2 separate regions of the Homo sapiens genome follow, and region 2 is linked to region 1. Evidence: fine-mapped expression QTL. A gene starts in region 1. The other region holds a variant in brackets. All regions are shown on one strand. Distances are from middle to middle. Region 1 holds the start of TNIP2 (TNFAIP3 interacting protein 2). Region 2 overlaps FAM193A (family with sequence similarity 193 member A).

The links. PIP is the estimated chance that this variant, and not a neighbour inherited with it, causes the effect.
Region 2: its variant is the best candidate, but not a certain one, in a credible set for the expression of TNIP2 in whole blood (TOPMed, PIP 0.52).

Annotation. Positions count from the first base shown.
Region 1 is chr4:2,749,332-2,765,352 of GRCh38, reverse strand. It overlaps TNIP2 (TNFAIP3 interacting protein 2), which reads left to right and starts at 9,017. Exons shown (of 6, transcript NM_024309.4): 1 at 9,017-9,339. The coding sequence starts at 9,064. It overlaps LOC102723763 (a long non-coding RNA gene), which reads right to left and starts at 3,621. Exons shown (of 3, transcript XR_001741552.2): 1 at 3,202-3,621; 2 at 1,504-1,613. RefSeq lists silencers at 833-1,382, 8,555-8,694, 8,875-9,394, 9,415-9,474 and enhancers at 1,573-2,141, 2,945-3,769.
Region 2 is chr4:2,647,794-2,663,814 of GRCh38, reverse strand. It overlaps FAM193A (family with sequence similarity 193 member A), which reads right to left. Exons shown (of 21, transcript NM_001366318.2): 8 at 5,935-6,012; 9 at 4,145-4,257; 10 at 3,761-4,003; 11 at 824-977; 12 at 527-706. Among named protein-coding and RNA genes, the nearest start is that of TNIP2, 100 kb to the left of the region's middle. RefSeq lists enhancers at 4,294-4,793, 4,794-5,295. The variant C/T (reference allele first, on the strand shown) is at 8,083.

The sequences.
Region 1 (16,021 bases):
GAATAAGGATCATTATACTTCACGTATGGATGGCAAAAGAGGGCCAAAAATAGATATGGAGATAATCCAGATAATCATTAAGTATATTTAAGAATAGTGTCAACTTTGACCATTGTAATTGGTATAAAAATATGACAGATTTCTGGATATTTATATCCAGATTATACAATATATACAGATTATATTTTATAGATACTAATGTTTGCCAACATTTCTAATATAGAGTTTGAAATGTTTCATCAAAACATTTAATACATGTAAAATATATACAAAGTTAAATACAGTAAAATCAAAATAATGTGGAAACTAGAATCTACTTGACATATCTCCCTAGCAAGATAGTGTTTTTTTCCAACTGTACTATATTATATGAAAGTCCTGTTGCTATGCATATTCTGTACATGCCATGGCTACGTCTACAAATATGAAACAGCTAGAATAAACGGAAAAATCTAAACACCAGAGATGTTTTTACGTGGTTGTATATGAAATTATCATGTTGACAAAACAGCCAGATAATAAAGTTTTCAAACTCAAGATTTTTGTCTTATATGTGTAACCTCTGTTCTATTTGTTACAAATTATAAGTCTATGTTACTTAAGTGTGTGAATGAATAAAGGAAACATCTAGTTTAAAAAAAAAAAAAAAAAGACCAGCCTGGCCAACATGGCAAAACCCCGTCACTGCTAAAAATACAAAAATTAGCCGGGCGTAGTGGCGTGCACTGTAATTCCAGCTACTCGGGAGGCTGAGGCAGGAGAATCGCTTGAACCCGGGAGACGGAGGTTGCAGTGAGCTGAGATTGCACCATTGCACTCCAGCCTGGGCAACAGAGCGAGACTCTGTCATTAACAAACCAACCAACTTCCCCCAGCGCTCAGGGGCCCACGCTGGGGAGCAAAGTGGGTCTCCTCTGAGACAAACGTGGAGACTGCTCGAGAGCGAGGGTGGAGAGGTGCTGGGGGCGCTGGTCGGGGCGCGGGTTGCGGGACGGGGAGGGGCTGGGCGGGGCGCTCGCGCTCGCCTTCTGCCTGAGGCCTGGTCTGGGGCCGCGGGTCCACACCGCCTCCTCGTGGACACTCGCCGCGAGGGCCCGCGCCGCCCGCGGAGGCTGGGCTTGAGCCCACGGGAAATGAATACGGATCCTATAAGATTCGAGCTTTCATCACTGGGTCACCAGACGGTTCTGGGCGCGTGTCCGGGGTTCATCCTGAATATGCGCTGATGGGGCCGCTGGGCACGGTGGCGGTGTGGCCGCAAGGCCCCGCGGGGCCGCGCCCACCCGGAGGGTCCCATACCAGCCCCTCCTCCGCGCCCAGGCCCTGGCTCTCCCCGCTGCACCCCCGCTGCCCGCAGCCCTGAGCGCGCCCCGCTTTCGCTGGCGGGACAGCAGCGTCCTGCCAGGGTCGCGGCGCCGCACAGCCCGAATACTTCCTCACGAAACTCCAGAGACCCCTTCTGTACCCGCTGTGTCCCCCGGCCTGCCAGTAGCTCATGGTTACCTCAGGGTCCCAGACGCTTAAATGGGTTCTGGAATTTTCTCTGCCTCCTCTTGCCTTCCGGGAGCAAATGCGATGGTGGCTGCCAGCTGCTCGCCTACGCTTTTCTGCTCCTAAGGGCTCGACAAGGCAAATGCATTGGCTCAGGTCAGGACAAAGAGCAGGATGATTTCCCAAGGTCCCGGGGCACTGGAGCTGCGGGGAAGGGCAGCGGCCCTGAGCCGGGACCCCTGTGTAGGGGAAGACCCCTGCCCCTCCTGGAGGCCGGCCGGCTCTTACGGGTTTTGGCCTAGCATCCCCATGTGTGTCCGGAATTGGTGGGTTCTTGATCTCACTGACTTCAGGAATGAAGCCGCGGACCCTCGCGGTGTTACAGTTCTTAAAGGCGGTGTGTCTGGAGTTTGTTCCTTCTGATGTTCGGACGTGTTCAGAGTTTCTTCCTTCTGGTGGGGTTCGTGGGCTCGGCGGACCCTGCACTCGGAGCAGCCAGCCGGCCCCACCGGCCACAGGCAGTGAGGGGCTTAGCACCTGGGCCAGCAGCTGCTGTGCTCAATTTCTCGCCGGGCCTTAGCTGCATTCCCGCGGGGCGGGGCTCGGAACCTGCAGCCCGCCATGCCTGAGCCTCCCCCGCTCCTCCGTGGGCTCCTGTGCAGCCCGAGCCTCCCTGACGAGCGCCGCCCCCGCTCCACGGCGCCTAGTCCCATCAACCACCCAAGGGCTGAGGAGTGCGGGTGCACGGTGCGGGACTGGCAGGCAGCTCCACATTCACTGGGTGAAGCCAGCTGGGCTCCTGAGTCTGGTGGGGACGTGGAGAACCTTTATGTCTAGCTAAGGGATTGTAAATTCACCAATCGGTACTCTGTATCTAGCTCAAGGTTCGTAAACACACCAATCAGCACCCTGTGTCTAGCTCAGGGTTTGTGAATGCACCAATCGACAATGTATCTAGCTAATCTGGCGGGGACGTGAAGAACCTTTGTGTCTAGCTCAGGGATTGTAAACACACCAATCAGCACCCTGTGAAAACAGACCACTCGGCTCTACCAATCAGCAGGATGTGGGTGGGGTCAGATAAGAGAATAAAAGAAGGCTGCCCGAGCCAGGAGCGGCAACCCGCTGGGGTACCCTTACCACATTGTGGAAGCTTTGTTCTTTTAGTCTTTGGGTCCACACCGTGTTTACGAGCTGTAACACTCATTTGTTGAAGGTCTGCAGCTTCACTCTTGAAGCCAGTGAGACCGCGAACCCACCGGGAGGAACGAACAACTCCAGACGCACCACCTTAAGAGTTGTGACACTCACCGCGAAGGTCCGCAGCTTCACTCCTGAGCCAGTGAGACCACGAACCCCACCAGAAGGAAAAAACTCCGAACACATCTGAACATCAGAAGGAACAAACTCCGGACACGCTGCCTTTAAGAGCTGTAACACTCATTGCCAGGGTCCACAGCTTCATTCTTGAAGTCAGTGAGACCAAGAACCCACCAATACCGGAAACACATGGGCTGGGCCAGGCAAGGGGGACGTTTGGGGCTCAGTCTGTCCTGGTCCCTTCTATGGCTACTCCAGTCCCTCCCCTGCTTGCTGCACTCTAGCCACCCCTGGACTCCTCCAAGGGTCTTGATCAGGCCCTGCACAGGTCCCTGGGGCTCTGCACTCGCCAAGCCCTCTGCCTAAGAGGTTCTTTGCCCAGATACTTACATTGTGTTCTCCTGGTCTTTATCCACGGGTCCCTGACTTTCCTGACCTCCCTGAAGGAAAGCCAGGAAGAGTGGAGAGGTCTGAGCTAGGAGCCTGTGGGAGTCAAAGAAGGTGCCCAGAGGAGGAGAGGAAGAGAAAGGGTGAGCCAGGTGGGGGGACTCTGCCCACCCCTCATACCCCGGCTGAGCCCTCCCATGCCTGCCTGCTCCCGTCAACCTCCCACCTCCCTGCTGAGTTGGAGCCGGGGGAGCCTGGAGGTGAGGATGTGCCAGGTAGGAGCCCCACAGGGGCCATGGGACACCAAGAGGTGATCCAGGAGGCATGCGTGGCAGCCCTGCCTCTGAAGTGTGGGGCCTAAGAGGGACCTGTTGGGCAGCTCAGGGCTTCTCCTTGGGGAGCTGACCCAGCCGTCTGTTCTGTGACCACCTTGACACCCACATCCAGTTCCTGCCGCAGTGCGCCTCTGTGAGCCCCACCCCCTGGCGGTGCTTGTGCAAACAATGGAAGGAATGAGTATTCCAGGCACTGAAGCAGCAGGCACAAAGTCCTGAGGCAGGAGAGAACTTGGTGTTTTTCATGGGAAGGAGTCAGTATTCCAGGCACTGAAGCAGCAGGTACAAAGTCCTGAGGCAGGAGAGAACTTGGTGTTTTTCATGGGAAGGAGTCAGTATTCCAGGCACTGAAGCAGCAGGTACAAAGTCCTGAGGCAGGAGAGAACTTGGTGTTTTTCATGGGCTCTTTCAGAATGACTGGTCTACAGTGAGCCGGAGAAAGGGGTGCAGATGGGTCTGAAAACAGCAGGGCCAGTGGACCACGCAGGCCTCAGCAGCTTCATCTGTGGGTGGGGCTCACGTTTACTCTACCCACCCATTCTGGGATTAGTAGCTACCCAGGGCTTTGCTGCTCTGGGGTGCTGGTGTCTCGCATTAGGCCTTCTCTTGCATGATCTCTGCTGATATCCACTGGCCATGCAGCCTCGAGCAGGTGGGGACAGACTTGGTCTACTCCAGGGCAGGTGCCCAAAGTCACACGGCAAAAGGGCGTGGCGGGAGGTGGTAAAAAGCTGGGAGCAACAGTCCATCTAGCACAAATACACATTTGCTGCAAAAAGCCCTGTTGTCAAGACAGTCCTCAGGTTTGACGATTCAGTAGAAGGACTCACAGTTATTCATTACAGCAAAAGGACACAGAAGAAAATCGGCAAAGGAAAAATAAGGCACATAGAGCGGGCCCGGCGGGGAGACCAGGTGCAAGTACCCACAGGATATCGCTCTCCCAACAGTACTGGGAGTGTTGCCAAACTGGGAAGCTCACCTGAGACTTTGTGTCCAGAGCTGTGGTTAGGGGTTGATCACATAGGCGGGGAGTGCCCATATGGCTGACCTGAGTTACTCGGTCTCCAGCTCCTTCAGAGCTCAAGCTCATGACCCAAGGCCTCAAGTTAGCTTAGACTAGCTGGTGTGGTCCAAGGCCCCCACATAAGCAAAGACACTCTTATCAGGTGGGATATTCCAAAAGGTCTAGGGCCAGTCCCTTTTTTGGAACATGCAGGGTTGAACACACTAGGCCTGCTGCACTAGCCCCATCCTGCACAAATCTAGATGAGTTTCAGAACACAGAAAGTGAATGCTGGCTGGGCGCGGTGGCTCACGCCTGTAATCCCAGCATTTTGGGAGGCCAAGGCAGGCAGATCACTTGAAGTCAGGAGTTTGATACCAGCCTGGCCAACATGGTGAAACCCCATCTCTACTAAAAATACAAAAATTAACCAGGCATGGTGGCACGTGCCTGTAATCCCAGCTACTCAGGAGGCTGAGGAAGGAGAATCACTTGAACCCAGGAGGCAGAGGTTGCAGCTGAGATCGCAGCATTGCACTCCAGCTTGAGTGACAGAGTGAAATGCTGTCTCGAAAGAAACAAAGAAAGAGAATGCGGAAAGAAAGAGGGAGGGAGGGAGGGAGGGAAGGAAAAGAAAGAAATTGCTCCCTGTATCAGCTCCTGCCCAACTCTAGGCCATACCCAGTTGTGAACTCACTCAGCCAACTCTCATGCCTGGCTCCTTCTCACCCTTTAGGTTGCAGAGCTGGACTGTTATCTTGTCTCTAATCACCCTCTTTAAAGTTAGGTTCCTCCTTTTTTTTTTTTTTTTTTTTTTTTTTGAGAGGGAGTCTCGCTGTGTCACCCAGGATGGAGTGCAATGGCGCTATCTTGGCTCACTGCAACCTCTGCCTCCCGGGTTCAAGCGATTCTCCTGCCTCAGCCTCCCGACTAGCTGGGGTTACAGGCACCCGCCACCATGCCTGGCTAATTTTTGTATTTTTAGTAGAGACAGGGTTTCACCATGTTGGCCAGAGTGGTCTCGAACTCCTGACCTCAGGAGTCCTGCCTGCCTTGGTCTCCCAAAGTGCTGGGATTACAGGTGTGAGCCACCGCACCCAGCCTGTTGTTTTCTTATACACATTTTCCCCTTCCTTTCCTTACACAAAATTTCCTTACGTTGCAATTATTCTTGTTTTGGAAAAGGATCTGTCTCCACTATTACAATGTCCACACATGAGTCCCCAGTGCCTGGCCCAGTACCTAAATTTGCATTGAAGGCAAGAGCATGCTGGGCACTTCCCATGTGACCTTACTGAATATTTACAACACCCTCTAAGACAAGTGTTCTTGGAGGTCTGGGATCCCTCATCCGCAATTCTGAAATCTAAAAAGCTCAGAAACCCAAAATAGTTTTCTTTCTTTCTTTTTTTTCTCAGAGACAGGGTCTCACTGTGTGGCCCAGGCTGGAGAGCAGTGGCACAATCACCATTTACTGCAGCCTCAAACCCCTGCCTCAAGCAATCCTATCTCAGCCTCCTGAGTATCTGGGACTACTGGCACACACCATCACACCCACCTAGTTTCTTTTAACTTTTTGTAGAGATGGGGTTTTGCTATGTTGCCCAGGCTGGGCTCCAACTTCTGGGCTCAAGAGATCCTCCTGCCTTGGCCTCCCTAAGTGCTGGGATTACAGGCATGAGCCACTGCACCTGGCCCCAAAATGTTTTTCTTAAAGGTGGTACAAAATCTGACTTCAACAGCTACAAGGCTTTTTCTGATCTTCATTCATCTCGCAGTCTGAATGGTCACCCTGTCTTTGCAGAAATTGTAATCTGTCTGGTTTTGTGGTGCTGTACCATGTCCCAGTGGGAGCACTAAGTCAGATTTTAGCTGTTCATTTTCCATTGCTGCAGAACAAACTATCCCAAATGTTAGTAGCTTAAAACAATAAGCATATATTATCTCATCCAGTTTCTGTGGTCAGGGACTCAGAGCAGTTTAGCTGGGCGGTCCTGGCCCGGGGTCTTCCATGGAGTCACAGTCAGTATGTCAGTGGGGGCTACTGTCTTCTGAAGGCTTGACTAGGGTCGGAGGATACAGTCCCAAAGTGGCTTCTTCACCACAGTGGGCAAGTGGGCGCCGGCTGCTGCCATGAAGCCTCAGTTCCTTGCCACATGGACCTCTTCACAGGGTTACTTGATGATAGGGTGGGTGGCTTCCCCCAGAGAGAATGCTCCGAAAGAGGGCAAGGCAGTAGCCGTGATGTCTTGTGGGAGCTAGCTGCAGAAGTCACACTCCATCATTTCTGCAGTACCCTCTTAGTTACCCAGGTCAGCCCTCTCCAGTGGATTGGAGGGGACTACACAGGAGCATGGATATTGGAAGGAGGGGATCCTCTTTGAAAGCTGGCTCCCCCAGTTATATGTACCTATTTGAAATCCAAAGATCCTCATTTCTAAAATACACATGGCGGCCTGGCGTGGTGGCTCACGCCTACAATCCCAGCACTTTGGGAGGCCGAGGCAGGCGGATCACTTGAGGCCGGGAGTTCGAGACCAGCCTGACCAATATGGTGAAACCCCGTCTCTACTAAAATACAAAAAATTAGCCAGGCGTGGTGGCGGGCGCCTGTAATCCCAGCTAATTGGGAGGCTGAGGTGGGAGAATCACTTGAACCTGGGAGGCGGAGGTTGCAATGAGCCAAAAATCACACCACTGCACTCCAGCCTGGGCGACAGATTGAGACTCCGTCTAAAATAAATCAATACGATACAGTACAGTACAATACAATACAATACACCACACCTGACCCCAAGGCTGTTGTTGGATGAGAGACTGTGGATTGTCACATGCACCTTTTACAGTTGAGGCAGAGGCTCAAGGTAGGTCACTGGAATGACGTGCCCCAGGCCACACATTAGCCTCTAACAGCTCTGGGTCCAGTTTTGTTTTTTCCACTCATGCCCCAGACAATCAATAGGCATTGTTTGTAACCATAGCCATGGGGACTGTAGGCTTGCTGTGCAGCAGCCACTGCACTGGACAAGCATTCCATGCACACTCCACCCTCTAGTCCCCACAACAGCCCAACCAGGTAGGGTGGGCACTCGCTCTGCCCTTCCTTCTGCTGAGAGGAAGCCCAGGCTCTGATGAGTAAGAAGGAGCCTTCCATAGCAAAGCCAGGCCTGTGTAGCCCAATGTCCGGGCCATAAGCACTTGGGTGGCTCTGGCTTTGCTTATAGGCTTGTCTGATTCTACAAGCTTGTGTTTTCCCAGGCTCAGCTCAGGCTTGGCTGTGGATCACATAAGGGAAGAAAGTCAAGAAGCTGCTCAGGGGCGGAGCCTGTGGGCAAGTGCACACACAGGGAAGACCCCTGCCCTATCCTGAGTAGGGAACCTTGGAAAGACCCCATGTGTGCTTGGGCATCATTGTGGGGAAGACTGGGCTGTGGAAAAACACTAGCGTTTGTCTGGGAATTTTGGGGAAGGAAAGGGATGGAAAAGCGAAAGGGTGGGAAGGGGCTGGTTTCCTGCTGCTTCTGCTATATAAGAACAGCATCTAGCAGGAAGGTTGTCCCGTGGGCCCATACTAGCCACCTTACAAAGCAGCGTCTGCAGTGGCTGACGCCTGTAATCCCAGCACTTTGGGAGGCTGAGGCCGGTGGATCTACCTGAGGTCAGGAGTTCAAGACCAGCCTGGCCAACATGGTGAAACACCATCTCTACTAATAATACCAAAAAATTAGCAGGGCATGGTGGCGGGCGCCTGTAATCCCAGCTACTCAGGAGGCTGAGGCAGGAGAATCGCTTGAAACTGGGAGGCGGAGGTTGTAGTGAGCCGAGATCGCGCCATTACACTCCAGCCTGGGCAACAGAGCGAAACTCCGTCTCAAAAAGAAGAAAAAAAAGGAAAGAAAAAAGAAAGCGGCGTGCGGGGCAGGGGGTTGGAGCTCTTTCTGGGCTCAGTGTCCCCAGGTGACGGAACACATGCCACGTGCTTGGTGCGCTGCGAGCTCAGCTCCTGGAGCTTCTGTTGCTGCTGTGGCCGCAAGGCCTGGACCCTCGCGGGGAGATTCAGACCCACACTTAGCTCCAGAGCTTGGGGGTTGTCGTTAAGCCCTTCCTTTCCATCAGAGGCTGATGAATCCCCAAACTCCTGGGCTGAGTTCGACTCTCCGACAACTCCTCAGAGGCGGATGTTTGGGGCCACTGGAATAAGCCCAGCACCAGCTGGGGTGTGGACAGCCTCGGGGGCCAGGCCAACTCTCCCGGACGGGTGCGGACGGCAGGGGCGGGGCCGGGCTGTAGGCGGTGGGAGGGGTGGGGCCGGGCGAGAAGGGGCTGGGCGGGCTGCCGTCGGGCGGGGCTGCGCGGGGAAGGGCGGGGCTGCGCGGGGGGCGGGGCTGCGTGGGGGAGGGCGGGGCCGGGCTGTTGTGGGTGGGCGGGGCGCACCGGGGAAAGTTCCGGGAAGGGCGGCAGCCGGCGGGGCCCGGGCGCGGAAGTTGCCGGCGGCCGCGCGGCCTCCCGGGCGGGCCTACAGCCATGTCCCGGGACCCGGGGTCGGGCGGCTGGGAGGAGGCCCCGCGCGCAGCTGCCGCGCTCTGCACCCTGTACCACGAGGCCGGACAGCGGCTGCGCCGCCTGCAGGACCAGCTCGCTGCCCGCGACGCCCTCATCGCTCGCCTCCGCGCCCGCCTGGCCGCGCTGGAGGGGGACGCCGCGCCGTCCCTAGTGGACGCGCTGCTGGAGCAGGTTGCGCGCTTCCGGGAGCAGCTGCGAAGGCAGGAGGGCGGCGCCGCCGAGGCCCAGATGCGCCAGGTACGAGGGCGGGTACCAGAGGAGCTGCGGGAGCGAGAGTGCGTGTGGCGGCCGCCGGGTCCTGGGTGGGTGAGCGAGCGGGCCCCGGGTCCTGAGGGGTTGAGGGGGTACTGGGTCCTGGGGTTGAGTTGGCCTCGGGTCCTGAGGGGTTGGGGGAGCACCAGGTCCTGGGAGTTGAGGGGGTGCCGGGTCCTGGGGGTGAGGGGGCCCCGGCTCCTGAGGGGTTGGGGGAGCATCAGGTCCTGGGGGTTGAGGGGGTGCCGGGTCCTGGGGTTGAGGGACACTAGGTCCTGGGGGTAAGGGGCCGTCGGGTCCTGGGGGTGATAGGGCAACAGCTTCTGGGGGGTGAGGGGACCCTGGGTCCTAGGGGAGAGAGGGGGACCAGGTCCTGAGTGGGATAAGGGGACACCACGGGCTGAGGTGTGCTGGGTCCTGGGGGGTTTGAGGCGTCACCAGGTGCTGGTGGAGGTGAGGGGGCTCTGGGTCCTGCGGGGTGAGGGTGCAAGGTTCTGAAGGGGATAAGCGAATGCTGGATCCTGGGGGGTTGGGAGGGCACTGGGTCCTGGGGGATGGTGAGGAGGCACTGGGTTCTGAGGAGGGGGGTTGGTGCAGTTCTTGGGTTCTGTGTGTGTGTGGTGTATGTTCAGGTGGGCTCTTAGGGGTATTTTGAGGTTCGTGTGTGGGAACACATTCCGAGGGGGGTGTGTGTATGCTGTGTGTATTCTGTGTGTATTGTGTAGTGTGTATGTTCCGGTTGGTTCTTAGGGGTGTTTTGAGGTGTGTGTGCGGGAGACACATTCTGAGGGGTGTGTATGGTGTGTGTGTGTACGCACACATGTGTGTCTTGGGTCCAAGGTCGTGTACTCATATTGTGTTCTAGAGTCCCTTCCAGCCCTCACCCATGCATGTGTCTTTCACTAGTGGCGCTTCAACTCTATGCTGGGAGCAATGGCAAATGCAGCCCGTGTCTGATAAAGGACACAAATCCTAGGCTGGGTGCAGTGGCTCACGCCTGTAATCCCAGTACTTTCGGAGGCAAGGCGGGCAGATTGCCTGAGCCCAGGAGTTCGAGACAAGGCTGAGCAACATGGTGAAACCCTGTCTACAAAAAGTGCAAAAAATTAGCCGGGCATGGTGGCACGTGCCCGTGCTCCCAGCCACTAGGGAGACTTAGGTGGGAGGATCACTTGAGCCTGGGAGGCAGAGGTTGCAGTGAGCCAAGATCGCACCACTGCACTCCAACCTGGGTGACAAAGTGAGACCTTGTCTGAAAAAATTAAATTAAAAATGGACACAAGGGTCCGGACGCGGTGGCTCATGCCTGTAATCCCAGCACTTTGGGAGGCCAAGGCGGCGGATCACGAGGTCAGGAGATTGAGACCATCCTGGCTAACATGGTGAAAACCCATCTCTACTAAAAATACAAAAAATTAGCTGGGCGTGGTGGCGGGCGCCTGTAGTCCCAGCTACTTGGGAGGCGGAGGCAGGAGAATGGCATGAACCCGGGCGGCGGAGCTTGCAGTGAGCCGAGATTGTGCCACTGCACTCCAGCCTGGGCGACAGAGCGAGACTCCGTCTCAAAAACAAACAAAAAAAGACGCAAATCCTGACTTTCTTCTCTTTGTCCTTGTCTATGATGTTTATGTCTGTTTTTTGATGATAAACTATAACACCACAACAGCAGTATAAGTAACAGTTTTTTTGTGCAATAGTATTTGCAAGCATCTGAAACATTCGGGTGAGCTCTGGCATCTATTATTCCATTTGATTCATGGCTATTATCCTAGTTTGCCCAGGAAAGAAACTAAGCCTGCAAAGGCAGTAGTCTGCGAAAGATAGTTTTTGTCTCCAGGGTTGGCCCCACAGCCTGATTTTAGAGAGAAAAAGAAACATGCCCTTTTTAAAAAAGAAAAAAAATTATAAAACAATTTTGAATATCTGAAAAATAAAGAATAAAATAGCCGCTGTAGTCCCACAGTGCAGGGATGACTAGTGTTAATCTCTTGGCATGCCTTCTTCCTGTTTTTCCTCTGTGTATAAGGTGTGTGTACACTTGGCATGGTTGTTTTCATGCTGTGTATACAGTTGTACTTAATATTAGGTTGTCAGTATCTACATCATTTAAAATACTTTCAGCAGCCAGTGTCTCCCCTACTCCACTCTCTCCCTCTTTCTGGAAGGTACATCCTGACTCACTAGAGCAGAAGGGAAGTTTAGAGGTCACCTGGTCTGCACCAACAGGTTTTAGAGTTGTGGATGCCAGGAGCCACAGATGAGTACAGACCAAGGACCCGGAAGGACACTCCGAAGTCATCTCCAGAATGTTGGTGGGACAGGATGCAGGGACCTCACAACCAGAGCAGTATACTTGCAGTCGGTGGCCATTGGTGTTCCGCTCACATGTGTTCCCTGGTGTCCTGTGTATCTGGCCACTCACCAAGCAGCTTATTGCAGCTTCCTGGTAGCCTCAGATAGAATTAGTTCTGTGTTCCCAGTATTACTGGCCCTGGTCCTGTCTTCCCAACATGTAAGCATGTAGGTTTTGTTTTGGGATTTTTATTTTTTTATTTTTTTGAGACAGGGTCTCACTCTGTTACCCAGGCTGGAGTGCAGTGGCACAAACATGGCTCACTGTGGCCTCAACCTCCTGGGCTTACGTGATCCTCCTGCCTCAGCCTCCCATATAGCTGGGACCACAGGAGTGTGCCATCACACCTGGCTAATTTTATTTTTTTTTTGTAGAGACGGGATCTTGCTGTGTCGCCCAGGCTGGTCTAGAACTCCTTTCTTCAAGTGATCCTCCTGCCTTGGCCTCCCAAAGTGCTAGGATTACAGGCATGAGCCACCACGCCCAGCATGGGGGGATTTTTAATTATTTAAGGAACATTTTAATGATTTAGTTTTGTTTGTTTGTTTTTTTATTTTTATTTTTATTTTTTTAGAGACAGGGTCTTGGTCTGTGACACTGCCACCTAGGCTGGAATGCCTTGGGGCCATCATAGCTCACTGTAACCTTGAACTCCTGGGCTCAACCAGCCCTCCCATCACAGCCTCCCGAGTGTCTAGGACTATAGGCGAAGAGCCTACCACAAGGACTATGAGCCACCACACCTGGCTAACTTCTTAAGTTTTTGTAGAGAAGGGGTCGCATGATGTTGCCCAAGCTGGTCTCAAACTCCTGGCCTCCAGGGATCCTCCTGTCTCGGCCTCTCAAAGTGCTGGTATTACAGGCGTGAGCCACTGTGCTGGCCTTATCTGGTATTTTATGCAATTACATATTTATTGCTCATCCCAACGTTCAATCTGAGGTCGGTCATGGAACCTGTGGAAGAATGGAGAGGTTTGTCACCTCCTGCAGGCCCTGGGTTCACTGAGGTGGCAGTGCAGAGTTAAAGACACAGCAGGAAGCAAGCCGTTGCTAGGTTGCTCTCATCTATGAGAGCCCGTTAGGAGCAGGAACCCTGGACCAGTAGGGACTGAGGGCTCCCAGAGAGAGTGCTGAGGCTCAGAATGTGGAGGAGCTGACCAGTGCGTCTGTGATCAAGCTGCGGTCAGTGTGTGATGGGGCAAGATCAGGCCAGAGAATTGTGGTCCTCAGTGCAGCCACAGCTGGACTTGAGACCTTACCTCATCTGTAACACAAGGCCTGAGTGGATAACTTTACAAAGCCCCTCCAGTTAATACTTTCTGGAATAATGGCACCAATTCATTGTGCAACCTGGTCCTGCCCAACCCCATCCTGTCACCATTCTCGGGACCAGCTTCATAGGCTTTGCCTGGTCCTGGCGTATCAGCCCCCTTTCCCTTCCGGCTTAGCTTAGCTTTGCTTTGCTTGTTTTCTTGGCTCTTTCTTTTCTTTTCTCTTCTCTTCTTTTCTTTCTTTCCTTCCTTGTTCCTTTTTTTTTTTTTTTAAACTGAGTCTTGCTCTGTCGCCAGGCTGGAGTGCAGTGGCGGGATCTTGGCTCAGTGCAACCTCCACCTCCCGGGTTCAAGCGATTCTCCTGCCTCAGCCTCCTGGGTAGCTGGGACTACAGGCGCCCACCAGCACGCCTGGCTAATTTTTTGTATCTTTAGTAGAGGCGGGGTTTCACCATGTTGGCCAGGCTGGTCTTGAACTCCTGACCTCGTGATCCACCCACCTCAGCCTCCCAAAGTGCTGGGATTGCAGGCATGAGCCACCGCCCCGGGCCACCTTCCTTGTTCCTTTCTTTCTTCCTTTCTCCTCCCCTCCCCTCCCCTCTTTTTGACAGGGTCACTCTGTTGCCCAGGCTGGAGTGCAGTAGCATGATCATAGCTCACTGCAGCCTTGACCTCCTGGGCTTAAGTGATCCTCCTGTCTCAGCCTCCCGAGTAGCTGGGACTACAAACGCCCACCACCATGCCTGGCTAATGTTTTTTGTATTTTTTGTAGAGACAAGGTCTCGCCATGTTGCCCAGGCTAGTCCCAACCCTTGGGCTCAAGTGATCCTCCCACCTCGGCCTCCCAAAGTGCTGGGATTACAGGCTTTGGGAGAATACACTTCTGTTGTTTAAGACACCAAGTTTGTGATACTTTGTTGCCGCAGCGCTAAAAGCCAAGAGGCCACTGTGCCTCTTAAGGCCAATCCACAAGACTATTAATAGAGCTGTTTACACTTTTGTGTTCTGAGCGTGGAGCTATGGAGTTGTGGGTCCCGGCGACAGGCTTTCCTGAGAGATGTCAGCCCAGTTGCTGACTAGTCTGTGTGTTGTGCCTGTGTGTGTAGACCCACAACTCCAGCTCGTACCTTGTTTTCTGACCACAGTGGTCGAGGTGCTGTTGTGTCCTAAGAACTGTTACTAACTGGACAAGGCACTCAGACAGATAAACCAGCACAAAGCTCTGCAACTTCAGAGCCAGTGACAAATGCCAGAAGCCCGGGGGCTGGAGGGGTCCTGGGGCCCTCATGCTGCCGAGGGGAGGATGAGTGGGGCAGCCCTTTGCAGGGCTGGCCTGCCCCCACGGGTTGAGCGTAGAGCCTGCGTCCTGATCTGTCTCTGTATGGCCCAGTCTTATTCCCATTTACTGGGCATCTGTGTGGGGCTGGGCTCAGTGTTGAGTACTAGGGTGTGGAGGCAAGAGAGAGCCACGCCCTCAGGATCTACGAGCTGTGGACATGCTGCCCTCCTGTTTGTGGAGCTGTTTGTTTCTCCTACTGTCAGCATTTGACCAACGCAGGAAGGAGGCTCCGAAATCAGATTTTACCTGGGCACGGTGACCCCTGCTGAGGCAGGAGGAGGATTGCTTGAGGCCAGGAGTTCAAGACCAGCCTAGGCAACATAGCCACACCCTGTCTTTATCAAAAAAAAAAAAAACCAGAAGTCAGGTTTTGCTCAAAGTCCTTTATCCCTGAAGAGGGTCTCACTGTCACCCAGGCTAGAGTGCAGTGGCACCGTCACAGCACACTGCAGCCTTGACCTCGAGCCCATGGTCCCAGCTATTTGGGAGGTTGAGACGGGAGGAACACTTGGACCCAGGAGTTCAAGGCTTCGGTGAGCTGTGATTATACCACTGTATTGCAGCCTCGGTGTCAGGGCGAGACCCTGTCTCTAAAATAATAAAATAATAATAATAATAATAATAATAATAATAATAATCAGGGTTCTCGCAGTAATAGGGCTTAGTATTTTGTTCCATTGTGATGAGAACATTCTAGGTTCCCGGTCTCTGTCCCTTCTTACCTCAAGTACTAGACACAGAGGCTGGACCCTTCTCCCGCCACTTCTGGGGGAAGCTTGGGCTCCTCCGTGACTTTTCTGAAACTGTTTCTTCACTTGTGGGATGGACTAGTTGAGCCTGCTTCACCTCCTTCATGTAATGTACTGTTTATTTTGGAGGATTCTTTGAAAACGGAAAAGTACAAATTTAAGGCCAGATATTAAAAAATTGTCAGGTCAGATGTGGTGGCTCGTGCCTATAATCCCAGCACTTTGGGAGGCTGAGGCAGGCGGATCACTCAAGTCCAGGACCAGACTGGGCAAAGTGGTGAAACCTTGTCTCTGCAAAAAATACAGAAATTAGCCAGGTACGGTGGCATGCACTTGTAATCCAACTACTTAGGGTGCTGAGGCAAGAGGATCACTTGAGTCTGGGAGGTGGAGGCTACAGTGAACCATGGTGGCACCACTGTACTCCAGCCTGGGTGACAGGGCGAGACCCTATCTCAAAATAAAATTGTCATTTTAAGAACCTTTTTAAATTCTTTAAGAAGTAATTGGGGTTGGGTGTGTTAATTTCCTAGAGCTGCTGTAACAAAGTAACACAAACTGGGGGGCTTCAAGCAACAGAAATTTAATCTTTCACAGTTCTAGAGGCCAGAAGCCAGAAACCAAGGCATCGGCTCTCTCTCAAGGTTCTAGGGAAGGACCCTTCCTCGCCTCTTCAGCTTCCTGTGGGGGCCACCAATCCTTGGTGTTCCTTGGCCTTTATCCACAAGACAAGACGTCACTCCTATCTTTGTTGTCACGTGGTCGTCTTCTCTCTGTGTGTCTGTCCAGACTTCTGTCTGCTTACAAGGACACCAGTCCCGTCCTAATCCATTTTGTCCCCACCTTAACTAATTACATCTGCAAAGACCCTATCTCTAAGTAAGGTTTCATTCCCAGATACCGGGGAATGGGAGGTTTGGTTGTGGACATCTTTTTGGGGTTACCCACCACAGTG
Region 2 (16,021 bases), 100 kb after region 1:
TTGTATTTTTAGTAGAGACGGGGTTTTGCCATGTTGGCCAGCCTGGTCTTGGATTCCTGGCCTCAACTGATCCACCCACCTTGGCCTCCCAAAGTGCTGGGATTACAGGCGTGAGCCACTGCGCCCGGCCAAAAACTTGTTTAAGCATCTATTTATGAAATTCTGAGAAAAAAAGCTAATAAGGTACCCTCACCTTTGGCTAACAGAAGAACAGATAATGAACAGGAAAAACAAACCTTTCCTGAAATTTTAATATTCCACTATTTTTTTTTAACTCCTCTCTTTGCTTCTATACAGACAAAAAAGGCCTCCACAGAGCTGCTATGGGGTGTTGCGAAATCAAGATTGATATTCGAGCAAGAAAAACAAGATTCAAATGGAGATTGTAAGTATGCCTTGACTCTCTTCAGTTCTAACCTTCAGAAATTATGGGAAACAAAATAATTTTGTATTCAGTAATGCTCATGTTTAGAGAAAATACACACAGAAAAAGAGATCCTTGGCAAAACAGCAAGCAAAGTCCTACCTGCTGTGTTGGGTAGGATGGGGGTGGACTGTCTGCTTTGCTCTCCTCTGTCCTGGGGCTCCTGCTTCCCAGCACTCCATCTTCCTTCGGGGCCCCTGGGGGCTCCCCACTACTCTCGCCGTCCGCTTCTTCATCATCAGCTTCTGAGGAACTACTGCTGGTACTGCTTATCTGAGGAGACTTTAAAGACAATCTTTTGTAATTTGCACTTTTCAAAACAGAGTAATATAAAATATTAAAATGTCAGACCATCATTTTATGTCATTTATTGTTGCTACGAAGAAGCCATGTCCATACCTCATCCTTCAGGGCCATGTTTTCCCCGCCACCATTCAATTCGCTGTGGATTCCATTCATGTTGGCCACCACCTCGGTATCATCATAATTACTCAATGGATAAATATCAGCAAATTTGGCTGACAATGGTGCAACATCTTCATCATCACTACAACTGACACAAGCAGAGATGGTCACTGTGAGGTCATTCAATTGTGAAAGACAATGAGTAAACCAGCCACTAAGCACAGATATTTCCTGGACAGATCACGGCTTTCATTTACAAAGAGTATTAGTTAAGTATCATTCCTACCACTAACATTTCTTAGTAACCTCAACATGAGAAAAATGCTTGGAAGATTAACATTTGTGCCATTTGGAAGAGTAAAAAACAAAAAACAAACAGAAAAACCTCCAAAAGTAGAAATATTAAGGAAACTACAAAAATTTAACCAGACTGATTAACGTTTCCATTTGACCTGAAGAGCGCTGGTATAAAACTAGTCTCTCTGCTACTCCCAAGACAACACAATTTGTGATTAAAATTAAAGGGGTACCGATGGCAACCTTAGGTGTTTAGTGTTTGCTTTTTAAACCTTAGCTGTTTAGTGTTTGCTTTTTCAACTTAGGGCTGAAATTTTCAGAAATAGTCAGTTGAACAAAACTTTAAAGGCACTTATGTAACAGAAGACTAATTTTTTTTGCTTTAAGGCCAGTCATGGCCTGGTCACTCATGATCGTAATTAAATATCAGCTTTAGCAAGACATCTAAGCAACAGGCAAATGAAAAATTTACTGAAATTAATTTTATTTTATTTTATTATTTTTTTGAGGCAGTGTCTTGCTCTGTCTCCCAGGCTGGAGTACAGTGGCACAATCTCGGCTCACTGCAAGCTCCACCCCCCAGGTTCACGCCATTCCCCTGCCTCAGCCTCCCGAGTAGCTGGGACTACAAGCACCCGCCACCACGCCCGGCTGATTTTTTGTATTTTTAGTAGAGATGGGGTTTCACTGTGTTAGCCAGGATAGTCTCAATCCCCTGACCTCGTGATCCGCCCGCCTCGGCCTCCCAAAGTGCTGGGATTACAGGCATCAGCCACTGCACCCGGCCTGAAATTAATTTTAAACAGATTTCAAGGCTTTAGCCTACAGAGACCACTTAAGATGCAGCTCTGGTGCATTAAAAGAGCTGGCACATTTAAGCTCAGTGCAATAAGATGCTCCAAGGTCCACAAAAACATGCACTGAGTCCATCTTCAGCCTGGGCACACAGCAACCTCCAGAAGGCAAAACCCTAGGAACTCGTCGTGATCTCACTTCCTAGAATGAGTGAAGAGTGTCCAGGACTACCAAATTCCGGTGTCTTTTCAACACATTACAAGTAACGTGCTAGAGTCTGGAGCTCACCAGAGGTAAGTACAAACAGCACCCACAAGGTGCAGAGTCCTAGGGCTTCCTGCAGGCCCACTGCACCTGGGACGCTGCCTGGGCCAATGCTCATACACACTCCTGAGGATGACCATAGGCACAATTTACAGATGAGAAAACTGAGGTTCTAGTGAAGTAACTCAGCCATTTGCTCCATGTGACAGCAGGAGGCTTCACCAGCCCTAGCTCCGTAAAGATCCAACCCATAAGATCCAGGAAGTACTGTGTGGTACACTGACTACAATCACATTGTTCTTTTTAACCAACTTAGAAAAGGCACCAAGAAAGAGACAATACAAATGAAAAGATAACACTGGAGATTTTCAAATCATAGTTTACATTTGGAAGACATTGATCACAAGCTGCTGAAGGCCCAGATGTCCCGAGAACCTAGGCTCCCCGTAACTGGTGATGGGCAGTTCCGGCCCAAGGAGAAAGGCTCCCACAGCCAATTTCTTCCACTACCACACGTGACACAAGAGACCATAACTGACATCAGCAGCTGTGACAAATGAACAGGGATGAAATTTTCCATCTTAAATTTTCATTAGGCTATATATGTTTAATTTTTATGTTTCAGTAAGAAGTTGGATAACAGCCAGCTGCAAAAATGTCAACACTCTTTCTTGTGCCCTGGAGAGTACACAGTGTCTCTAAGGCAATAAACAGCAGCCTGCAATCTTTGTATGAAGAGAGTCAGTGAGTTTAAACCAGTCCTTTCAGAATTATTTTGTCTGAGAACAAGCCCAAATTGAAAATGGAAAGACTGAAGGAAAACGTCAGTCACCATGAGAAATCCAGACAGAAGGAATGAACACAAGTCAGTTGGTCAGAGAAATCCCAGAAACGCTGCATAGCCAAGGTCAGGAACAACAATCTCTCCCACTGCACACTTCCACATGGAACATGATGCCTGTGTGCTCTACGATACACGTAAACTAAACCTAAGCTGACTTTGGCAACTACATATGATCAAGTGCAACCCTTTTGGAAATTAGCATGTGAAGCCTCCCCAAATGACAGGGTCACAACTCTGAAGAAATCTGGGAACAGCCAACTACAATGTGAATTGGTGACAGCTGCACAACAATGTACTTCTAATCATGCGGGAACATGAAAAACAGAAACCTTCAACTGCTTGCTAAAGCGATCACCTGAGTTCTTAGCAAGACATGAAACAAGCATGAGTGCTGGGCTGACAGGGAGACAGGACAGACGGCGGACTGGTCACCCTTTAGGAGAATGAGGAGATGTGAGGCCGGAATTAGAGACACTTCTTCTCTGCATACCAACATGTTTTTTCTTTACTGGCCTTTATTAATTTACCATGTTTTTTTTTTCCCAGATAAACAGTGTTAAAAGTTTGGGTTTACTGATTTCATGTTTTAAAAGCTGCATTAAAAACCTCAGGGTCCCTTGTCATGAAAAGCACAATAATGATGTTCATACTTCTGTGGACATTACTGTATGTATTTCTCATTACTGGGGCGACTTAAATTTCGGAAACTTTATTACAAAGTCACAACTTACAAAGTTGGTGCCGAGCCACTGTCTGTGAGGATGAGCCTGGGGTGCTGCTGAATTGTGATGGGAGAGCTGGAGCCGGACCCCGAGCTTGCAGATGACACACTGGGCGGGCTCCTCTCAGCAAGATAGTCAGGAGCAGGATCCACTTGAAGTGGGAGCTGGTGAATGTGGATGTCATCAGTGACGGGGGGGTCCATGATACCACACGTGAGGATGTGTGAGAGACTGCAGTCATCGCAAGCACATCTGATCAGGAATTAAGGACAGTTACCAAGCCAACCAATGCACAAGACTAGACCATGCTCTCTAAGGGTCGGTTCTAGGCCTCCACTCAGCCCAGTGAAGGTCCAATGGGCCAGTCGTGCTGACACCACAACCCAGCCTTACCTTCTCCTGTAGTTGCAGTTGGGGCAGTCGGGCATGCTCAGCCGGGACGATAACATGTGCCTCATGGTGTCTGTGAAGTTGTTCTCGCCAGTAACTGCTTTCTTATTGGTTAACTAGAGGAAATTTTAAAATGCTTTAATCTTGCAAGACCCTTCCCCGAGACATGGCTCATTATTTTTCAGTAATTCTGCTGACATGTATCATGTTCACGGGCACTGCTTCCTCAGCGGGACAGGACCAGGAATACAGGGGCAGCAGACCTGGAGTCGGCAGCAAGCTGGGGGCTGAGCTGCAAAGGGCTCGGGTACCAGGAGACCCTAATCGCTTTTGTCTTCAGCAAACATGCTGCAGTGCGCCCTCACAGCACACACCTGATGCAGAAACCCGGCCTTTACCCTGTCTGCCATGTGCTTGGTACTTGCAAGGTACTGAGAACAGAGCTGTAGGAATGAAAAGTGGCACGTGGAGGGCAAGGGGTCGGCCTCGGAGCTATTGAGGAAATGGCACCTCAACTTCTAACAGACAAGGTGAGCATCTGCATTTCAAAGGAGAAGGAACTCTGGACCCACTCTGGCAATGGGACAGGTGGCAGCTGGAAGGGCCACTCAAAAGGACGGGATGGCCGGGAAAGGTGGCTCACGCCTGTAATCCCAGCACCTTGGGAGGCAGAGGCAGGCGGATCACCTGAGGTCAGGAGTTTGAGACCAGCCTGGCCAACATGGTGAAACCCCATCTCTACTAAAAATACAAAAATTAGCCAGGCGTGGTGGCTGGCACCTGTAATCCCAGCTACTCAGGAGGCTGAGACACGAGTACCGCTTGAACCCGGGAGGCAGAGGTTGCAGTGAGCCGAGTTCACGCCACTGCACTTCAGCCTGGACGACAGAGTGAGACTTTGTCTCAAAACAACAACAACAACAAAAGCACAGGGACACATGCAGAATGGGGAAAGGGAAGAGGTAAGCATGCCACAACACTGGTGCCATCTGTATACCTGTGGTGCCCAGAGGAGACCACGGGCATGCAAATGTGGAGACAGGCATGGGGTCAAGGCCAGGGAACCACCAATATTTGCAGAAAGACCAATGAAGTTGGAGTTCGTAAAGGAGATGGAGAGAAGTGTCAGAGAACAGGAAGAGAGTCGATGTGGCACGTGGATGGGAGATCAGGGGAAGCCAAGTTTCCAGATGAAGCCAAGGGCCCCCAGACCAGATACAGGACATCACTAGCAAGCTCTGCCCAACAGCTCCAGCAAAGGTGGAGCACAAGCCTGCCTGGAGGAGGCACCGCCAGGAAGATGAGGAAGGGAGAGTCCAGATCTGCCAGCTGCCATGTTGAAGGCATGGCACCTGGCAATGTCTGGAGATCTGAGCGCTCTGTCTGGGGATGCTGGGCCCCCATTCCAGCTCTGGGACATCAGGCAACATCCTTAACCTCACCCTAACACCCTCCTTCATATGTAAACTGCAGATGGCACCATCTGCCTCATAGGGGACTGTGGGGACTCAGGTAATATCCTTTGCAAAATACCCAGAGCTGCTGTGGGATAGAGAGGCCACTCAATACACATGGGTTTTTCTTGAGGCGTATATGGAAGATAAGGAAATAGGTGAAAATTAGTTTATCTTGAGATTAAAAACACCATCTTGAACAGTTTTTAACGCTGGCAAAACATGCCAATGTGGTCCTCCAATGCTGTTCTAACAAAGCACATCAACATGCAGAGAAGTCATTTGCTGTCAGGACAGATTTCTACTTCCTTTAATTGCCTCTCTTATTGACAAGCTTACCTGTTCTTCAATGAATCTTCTTTGTTTAAAAAGCTCCCAGTCTTCTGTTAACATGCGCTGCTTGGTTTTCATTGTCATCTAGTAAGGGGATGTAAAAAACAGAAAAAAAAGAAAAACTTTAATACCTGCGACAATTATACAAGACATTTTCAAGAGGAGACTTTCTTAAAATGATATATATGAGAGAAACATCATCTGCAAACAGAATAAAGATACAATACTACAAATATGTTAACAGGTATTTCTTTATTTTACTCAAACTCATCACAAGTACTTTTCTCACATGAAAGACAGAGATGAATAAACAGTAAAAAGAGAAATCAAGATATTCTGACTAAATCTGTCAATACAGTGGATGAACATTCACTATTTACTGAATGCCCATTATGTGCCCTGAATGTGTTAGAAATAAGCAAGATGATGGCAACTCGGTCCTGCCACACGAAGAGCTCAGACTACAGGAAAGGAAGAGCTATTAACAGGCATATGAGACTTAAAAAGCAAAGCAAAACAAAACTAACAAAGAAGTTAGGAGTTAAAGGCAAAAAGAGAAATTACTGAGGAAACAGAGAAGCATATGTGATTAATAAAACCGAAAGTCGGTTCTGTAAGCTTCTGTCAAGGCTGAAAAAGGGGGAAAAAGGTAACATTAAAAAAAAATCAGGATTGAGAAAGGATATGGGTACATATGAAGATTGTTTTGTTTTGTTTTTGAGACTGAGTCTCGCTATATCACCCAAGCTGGAGTGCAGTGGCACAATCTCGGCTCAATGCAACCTCTGCCTCCTGGGTTCAAGCGATTCTTGTGCTTCAGCCTCCTGAGTTAGCTGGGATTATAGGTGCCCGCCACCACGCCCAGCTCATTTTTCTATTTTTACTAGAGACGGTGTTTCACCATGTTGGCCAGGCTGGTCTGGAACTCCTGGCCTCAAGTGATCCACCTGCCTCGGCCTCCCAAAGTGCTGGGATTATAAGCGTGAGCCACTGTGCCCGCCTGGCCAGAAGATTGTTTTTAAACTGTGAGACAAAGTCTCTTTATAAGTTGATACTTTGTAACATCTAAAGAAGAGTTACAAACAAGGGGCTCATGGGCTATTTTGTCCGACTTGCACTTCACCTCTTTTTAAAAGTGTTCGAGATTTCACCTAATAATCCAGATTTCTGGCTTCTCTTGACAACCTGGCAGCTCTGGTGGCCCTGTGAAGACTGTTGGACCCAAGTGGGGACTGCCCCTAACAGAGAACAGGAGGACACACGCACGCACACACAGGTGTGGCCTTCGCTACCCATGCCCCAGGCTCCACTAGGGCCTATCCCAACTGAGGGCACTTTCAAGGTGAGGGTGGTGACGGCCATGAGCACCACAGGAACGCTGGGGCCGCTCTACCCTGTATCATCCATTTCCGTGACTTTCCCTAGCCCTGCAGGTGTGAGTTTACAACCCTTTACTAAACGATATGGATAACTTCTTGAGCCAAATTCTATTTGTAAAACTGACTCGAGGGAGAAGGAAACCTGAAATACACTAATAAATGTCATATAAATGAAAAAGGCAGACAAGATCTATAGTTCTTGTTCTTCTTCCCTGTAAAAATGAATTAGGCCCCAAAGTTTTACGGTAGGTTCTATCAAACCCTTCATGGGACAGAAAATTTAAACTATTCCTGAAAATTGCAAAAACACAGAGTTTCTCAATTCATTCTATGAAGCTAGCACAACCTTTATACAAAACAAGTAAGACCTCAAAGACCAAGACAACTCAATTATACCTCAGAATATAGATATAAAAGTCCTGGCTGGATGCAGTGGCTCACACCTGTAATCCCAGCACTTTGGTAGGCCAAAGCAGGAGGATCACTTGAGGCCAGGAATTTGAGAACAGTCTAGGTAACAAGGCAAGACCCCCACCGCTACAAAAAATTTCATTTGTTTGTAAATAAAATTATCTTTGAGACAAGGTCTCTTGCTCTGTCACCAAGGCTGGACTACAGTGGTATGATCACAACTTACTGTAGCCTCAACCTCCTGGGCCTATGATCCTCCCACCTCAGCCTCCCAAGTAGCTAGGACCACAGGCACACACCACCACACCTGGCTAATTTTTTTTTCCTTGTAGAGATGGGGTTCTCCCTATGTTGCCCAGGTTGG[C/T]CTCAAACTCCTGGGCTCAAGCGATCCTTCTGCTTTGGCCTCCCAAAGTGCTGGGATTACAGCTGTGAGCCACTGCACCAAGCCAAAACTTAGCTGGCACACTGGCATGTGCCTATGGTCCTAGCTACTCAGGAGGCTGAAGTGGGAGGAGAGCTTGAGCCCAGGAGTTCGAGGCTGCAGAGAACTAATATCTTGTCATTGCACTCCAGCCTGGCCAGCAGTGTGAAACCCTGTCTCTAAAAATAATTTTATATAGCTGTCCGAATACACACACACACACACACAGGCGCACACGCACACACACACACGTCCTAAATCAAATATCAGCTAATAAATTTAATAATGGAATAAAGAATGACATATCATGATCTACTAGGGTTTCATCCCAGGAACGCAAGAATGTCTCAAAATTAGGTAACCTAAACTCTTAACTCATACAGAAATTGATATAAGAAAAATCATACCATCAATTTTGACATCTTCCTGTTTTATTTTTTAAATGATAGCCTAAATCAACTAGAAATAAAGGTAAACTTCTTTAATTTGCTAGAAAGTATCAAAAGTCTGTATGGCAAGCATCAAACTTCATGGTGAAACACTCACAGCAGCCCCTCGAAGCCAGGACTGGACAAGGGTGCCAGTATCAATGCTCTTATTCACACTGGTCTGAAGGTCCTAGTGGAAGCCAAAAAAAGGGGACAAATGCTGGAAAAGATGAGATAAACCTATCATTATTTGTAGAAGATACCGTGATTTCCTAGACTCCCAGATTCAAGACTCAACTCAAAAACTACAAGAGTTAATGCCGGCATCTGGCGAGATGACTGGTCACAGGGCATCTCCATTTTCCCAGTTTCCAGCATGAATGCTTTAAACACACATTCCCCACTCAAGATGCCGGTCATAGCAGCCCCTCAAACTACAGACTATGGAGGCACAAAATGGGTCAAGATTTACAAACTATAAAACCATAATACAATATATTTTTAAAAACCTTAAAAAAGAGTGACATACCATATTCTTGGATGGGAAGATTCAATATTGGTGCCAATTCTCCCTTTTCATTGTATATGTCTGCAGTTATTATAAAATCTTAGTGTACAGTGTAAGAGTTGTTTGATAAATAACATCAATAAAAACCTCTTCCTTGACTCTCTCCTCACAGCCTCAGGGAAATTTTTTTTTTTTTGGAACAAATTTGGGTACCTGCAGGCTTATGTATGTGTCAAACAACAGAGAAAGAATGAATTTCAGACAGCAAACATAAAAATAATTGATTTCAAACTTCCAGCCTGGGCAACACGGTGAAACCCCGTCTCTACCAAAAATACAAAAAAAAAAAAAAAAAAAAAAATTAGCCAGGCATGGTGGTGTGCGCTGTGATCCCAGCTACTCTGGAGGCTGAGGTGGGAGGGCTGCTTGAGCCCAGCAGGCAGAGGTTGCAGTGAGCTGAGATGACACCACCGCCTAGTTGAGAGAGTAAGACTCCATCTCAAACAAACAAACAAAACCTACCAACTCTCTTGCCACATACATACATACTTATTTGTGAACAGAGACTCAATTATTTTACACGTATTCAACATTTTAAAGCCTTTGAATCAGTATAAAATTTCTAAAATGTTATTGATTAGAAGCAACCAATGTTCATTCAAAGGTTTTAAATTAAATAGTGCATTAAAACAGCTCCAGTGGAGAGTGGAGTGGCCACAAACCAAGAACTCCAGGGGTCACTGCAGTTGCCCCCAAAGCCTTCAGGGGAACATAGCCCTGCTGACATACTGATTCTGAACTTCTGGCCTCAAGAACTGTGAGCATAAATTTCTGTTGTTTTCAGCTCCCCACAACCTCCCACCCATGCATACATGGTTCCAGAATGACTATTATTCTCTGGATGTTACTAAAGTGGCTCAATTTCCCTCAATTGTATTAGTGGCAGATTGTTTCTCATGGTTTCTTCACAAGACAGTGAAAATAAAAATGCATCTCCTGGCTGGGCATGGTGGCTCACGCCTGTAATCCCAGCACTTTGGGAGGCTGAGGTGGGTGGATGATGAGGTCAAGAGATCTAGACCATCCTGGCCAACAGGGTGAAACCTTGTCTCTACTACAAATACAAAAATTAGCCGGGCGTGGTGGCGGGCGCCTGTAGTCCCTACTACTCGGGAGGCTGAGGCAGGAGAATTGCTTGAACCCAGGAGGCAGAGGTTGCAGTGAGCCAAGATCACACCACTGCACTCCAGCCTGGTGACAGAGAGAGACTCTGTCTAAAAAAAAATAAATAAAAATAAAAAGCATCTTCTGGTTGCTTTAGTGAAGAGACTGGTTTTCTCTTTGTAAAAGCAATGTAACATGCAATTTTAAAGAAATACACTTTACTTTTTAAGTGACACTGTTATTTTCTCCCTAGAGAGAACATGTATGTGTTATTTTTACATATATACCATTTTCCCTAGAACAACAGCAATAATACCATATATAATATTTCAAAATAAATGTTTACCTTCAAGAAACAGATACCTGAAGAAATTACTATTCCCAAAGGATTTTTCAGTCTTAGTAAAAGAATTTCCCTAAGGGCATTTTTGTGTTTAGTTACAGTTCAATTGGAGAAATGAATCTCTGAAACTAGAACTTTATCTGCCATTTCCATCACATGTGGAACTAAGGACAGCACCCCAGGCTCTTAGGGGCAGGATGTTATGCTACGTAGGACACCGCTGACCTAAACCCCAACAGGCCTGCCTGGCTGAGACCCTCGGGAGCCTCCTGTCATCTGCAGATGTGGTAACACCAGGAAGCAGTAGTGAGGCTCTAGCCACACGGGGTTTGGCACAGCACTCGGTAACGGTTCATCTTCCTTCTCTTTCATCTTTTTCCCTATGTTATCACTAACTATACTATTTTTCTGAAGTCACCTGAAGGTTACAAGTTATTCACAACCTCAGAAACTTATATCGATACATGAAGGGAAAGCCAGGTGATATGGCTTAGATTTGTGTCCCCGCCCAAATCTCATGTCAAACTGTAATCCCCATTGTTGGAGATGGGGCCTGGTGGGAGGTGATCAGATCATGGGGGCAGATTTCCCCGAAGGTGCTGTTCTCGTGATAGCGAGTGCTCAGAAGATCTGGTTGTTTAAAAGTGTGTAGCACCTCCCCACCCCCCTTCCTCCTACTCCAGCCACGTAAGATGTGCTGGCTTCCCCTTCACCTTCCACCATGATTGTAAGTTTCCCGAGGCCTCCCAGCCATGCTTCCTACACAGCCACAGAACCGTGAGCCAATTAAACTGCTTTTCTTTATAAATTATCCAGTCTCAGGTATTTCTTTATAGCAATGCAAGAATGGACTAATACACCAGGGATAAATCAAGTGAACAGCATCAATCCTACAGAAGAAAAACACCAAATGCAGGAGAAAGGGAGGTGGGAGTTCCATTCAGAAAAGCTTCCAGACTCAAAGCTTCTCTGCAATAGGCCAGCGTCTCCTGTTCAACACCAGGACAGGAAGCACCGACACACCCAAGTCATCTTTGTTGACAGGCAAGGCTGATTTGCACTTAGACTTGCAGACAAGTGCCTCCCATGAAGGGTACTCTGCAAATCCCTGGTAAACAATGAATACCAGGCACAGAGGCCACCAGCCCCAGTCAGGGACAGATGTGTCCCTGAAATGAAATCTGAGATGAGACCTCATGGTCACCTAGTCCAAATACCTCTCCAACTATTCTCCACATTCCCTATCATGGGGAACTCATCTCCACACTACAGCCCACTCTGCCTTCGAACGACCCTTGCAAGGGACTCTTTCTGATCACACACATCTACACGGGGTCTGGACTCTCCTCCTGGGGGCTGTCTGGGACGAGCTGAATGTCTGCTTCACAATGGTCACTTCTTGACGACTCAGGCCAGCAACCTCTTATGCTTCCCTGCCAGGGGGATCCAGTCTGGTCAGAGCTGTCCTGAGGACAGGCAGCGAGGCTGCTACCACACCCTGATTACAGGACCTTCCACGTCTGCCGTGACGTCATGTCAACCTGTCACATTGATATGGTTCACCTTTGTCCCCACCCAAATCTCATGTCAAACTGTAATCCCCACATGTCAGGGGAGGAACCTGGTGGGAGGTGATGGGATCATGGGGGCGGATTTCCCCCATGCTGTTCTCATGATAGCGAGTTCTCACAAGATGTGATGGCTCAGAAGTGTGGCATTTCCCCTCTTGCTCTCTCTCTCCTGCCACTGTGTAAGACGTGCCTTGCCTCTTCTTCTCCTTCCGCCATGATTATAAGTTTCCTAAGGCCTCCCCAGCCATGCGGAACTGTGAATCAATGAAATCTCTGTTCTTTATAAATTACCCAGAATCAGGTAGGTTTTTTGTTTTATTGGTTTTTTTTTGAGACAGAGTTTCACTCTTGTTGCCTAGGCTGGAGTGCAATGGCATGATCTCAGCTCACCCCAACCTCTGCCTCCCAGGTTCAAGTGACTCTCCTGCCTCAGCCTCCTGAGTAGGTGAGATTACAGGCATGTGCCACCACGCTCGGCTAATTTTGTATTTTTAGTAGAGACGGGGTTTCTCCATGCTGGCCAGGCTGGTCTTGAACTCCCGACCTCAGGTGATCCGCCCACCTTGGCCTCCCTAAGTGCTGGGATTACAGGGGTGAGTATCAAGCCCGGTCTCAGGTAGTTCTTTATAGCAGTGTGAAAATGGACTGATACACACACCCCTCCAGGTCTGATGCCACCCTCCAGTGGATTCACCAACACTCAGCTTCTCCATCTGCACGTCTGTTACTGCTACAAACACTAACAAGACTGTGGAGGAGGGCCCTGAGACAGCGTTCTCTGGGCCAAAGGCAAATACCGTTGCTGCCATTAGAGTGTACCGTGGGCGGCTATCCATGCCTACCCAGAAGGTGCTTGGGGCTCCTCTTTTTTTATGCGGTCCTTGGTAAAGGTAGGCAGGGTCCTATGCACTTGGGAGGTTTCAATGACCTAATGCAATACAACTTGACTGCAGCTCATGTTGGCAAGACAGAGACTTAGCAGGTGGCACTATGTCGTCAACAGAGACACTCTTGGATTAAGGAGCCTTTCACGTGCTTCCCACAAGCAGCCTCTCTGGGAGTCTTGAAACCCCGCCCTGCACAGCAGCCTCTCCCTGGGCTTCAGAGCCCTGAGCTCCCATCTCTGCCCCCAGCCAGGGTGGTCTTGGCTTCCCCTACCGCACCCGTGAGGCCAGAGCAGGTGCGCTTCGTTCCCTTGAGCCCCGGTGACGAGAGTGAGCCGGGCAGGAAAGCCGGCCCCTCGCCTTCTGTTTTCCTTCTCAAGGTCTTTCCTTCACAGTGTCTACTGATGGCCTGAGATCTCATGCTCCTCCCTCCTTCTGTGCTCTCAATAAACCACCCTGCGTGGGTGCCATGGGATGTGCTCTAGAGCAGTGGTCCCCAACCTTTTTAGGACCAGGGACCGATTTCATGGAAGACAACTTTTCCACAGACCAGGTGAGGCAAGGGGATGGTTCTGGGATGATTCAAGCTCATCACATTTATTGTGCACTTTGTTTCTATTATTATTACACTGTCATATAGAATGAAATAATTATACAACTCACCACAATGCACAATTAGTGGGAGCCCTGAGCTTGTTTTCCTTCAACTAGATGGTCCCATCTAGGGGTGATGGGAGACAGTGACAGATCATCAGGCATTAGATTCTCATGAGGAGCGTACAATCTAGATCCCTTGCACACGCAGTTCACAATAGGGTTCATGCTTCTGTGAGGATCTAATGTCTCTGCTGATCGGACATGAGAAGTTCAGGCGGTAATGCAAGCAATAGGGAGTGGCTATAAACACTGACAGGCTTCACTGGCTCACCGGCCACTCACCTCCTGCTGTGCAGCCTGGTTCCTAACAGGCCATGGACTAGTACTGGTCTGTGACCCAAGGGTTAGGGACCCCTGCTCTGTGGGGCACCCAGTAACCAGCAGCCCACAGTGCAATACCAACACAGGGACTATTTACTGTCCCTATGCCTATATATTTTTTTCATTTTTTGAGATAGGGTCTCACTGTTGCCCAGGATGGAGTGTGGTGGCATGATCATAGCTCACCACAGCCTCAACCTCCTAGGCTCAAGTGATCCTCCCATCTCAGCCTCCCGAGTAGCTGAAACCACAAGTGCACACTACCATGGCAGGCTAATTTTTGTATTTTTGTAGAGACAAGGTCTATCTATGTCACCCAGGCTGATCTCAAACTTCTGGGCTCAAGTAATCCACCTGCCTCAGCCTCCCAAAGTGCTAGGAATACAGGTGTGAGCCACTAAGCCTGGCTTTTTTTTTTTTTTTTTCAGACAGGGTCTCACTCTGTCACCCAGGCTGCAGTGCAGTGGCACCATCATAGATCACTGCAGCCTCTAACTCTTGGTCTTAAGTGATCCTCCCCCACTCACTCTCTGGAGTGGCCGGAACCACAAACACACGGCACCCAGCCTGGCTAATTTTTTAATTTTTTGTAGAGACAAGGTCTCACTATGTTGCCCAGGCTGGTCTCAAACTCCTGGGCTCAAGTGATCCTCCCACCTTAGCCTCCCAAAGTGCTGAAATTATAGGTGTGAGCCACTGCACCTGGCCAGTTTTACTTTTTAAAAATAACACAGAAAAAACTTATTTGGAATTAAAAGCTCACACAACACTAAAACATCACCTAACATAATTATCTCATTTTGCAGGTAGGGAGGGAAAAGACTCATGGGGCAGATCCGGGACATTCTGGTGTTGACTGCCGTGCAGGGTTCTCCCTGGGACCCAAGTCAAGAACATCCCAGGGAGTGGTGACCTGGACACACTACTGGCCCTCCTGCACGGCCACAGCCCTGAAGAGCCTCTGCCGAAGATGCCCACTTCCTGGAGAAGGTTAATGCCCACTGTCCTAGCTTCCCCCAACTCCTGCTCCCTCTACCAGAACAGCAAACTTGTGAAAATGGGCTGGTGCACCCACAGATGGCAGAGGGGAATGCAGCTTTCAGCGCCCTCTCTGCTGTGCTGCCCCCACATGGCACAGCTGCAGCCCCTGGGATGCTCCAGGCCTCACGAGATGAAGGCTGCTGAGGTGCTGCTGCAGCAGGAGACTCTGCCCTCCCCACCTGGCATCCAGACCCTGCTCTCACAGTAGTCCAGGCTAAGAAGTCGCTGGTCAGTGACAAGCCACAGCAGGAAAGTCTCTGGTTGCAAAAACAGACAAAAACATGAATTAGGAATACACCCACTTTGAAGAAAACACAAAACAGCAACTGCTCTCTCAGGCCCCACCATGAGGCACAGGACACAGAGGGAGTCTCCCAGGACCAAAGTGATCTCTGAGGCCCCTCCTCACCCTGACGTGCTGTGCGTACAGCAGCCAAGGAAGAGGCGCAGAGTCATGGGAGAGTCTCAGGGCCACCTGCCCTAAGACAAGCTCAACAGCACAGAATTCCGCATGTGACGAAGTTGGAACTTACTCCACTGAAGCTGATGCAGGTTCAAAAAAAGCCAGCAGGCCAGGCGCAGTGGCTCACAAATGTAATCCCAGTACTTTGGGAGGCTGAGAATGCAGAAGAATGGAGTAAGAGAAAACCCGCGAAAATCCAAACAACAGACCATTTGTAGCTCTAGTCCCTGTGGCTGCAGTAGAGAACAGCAACAGAAAACACGGCCTGTAGCTGTGAAATCAATGACACAATTCTCGGAGGGAGCAAGCACATGCTAGTCCCTTCCTTCTTCCCAGTCCCTCACAGCACTGACAAGGAACACTGACAAGGAGCCACAGGTGGCATCCACATGGCACTCACCATGCCAGGGCAGACATGGAACCAGCACATGTCTTAGGCTAGAGCCCAGGTTCCATTTTCCTACAGAGAGTCTCCGAAGTGCAAAAGAGAAACTCAGTCATT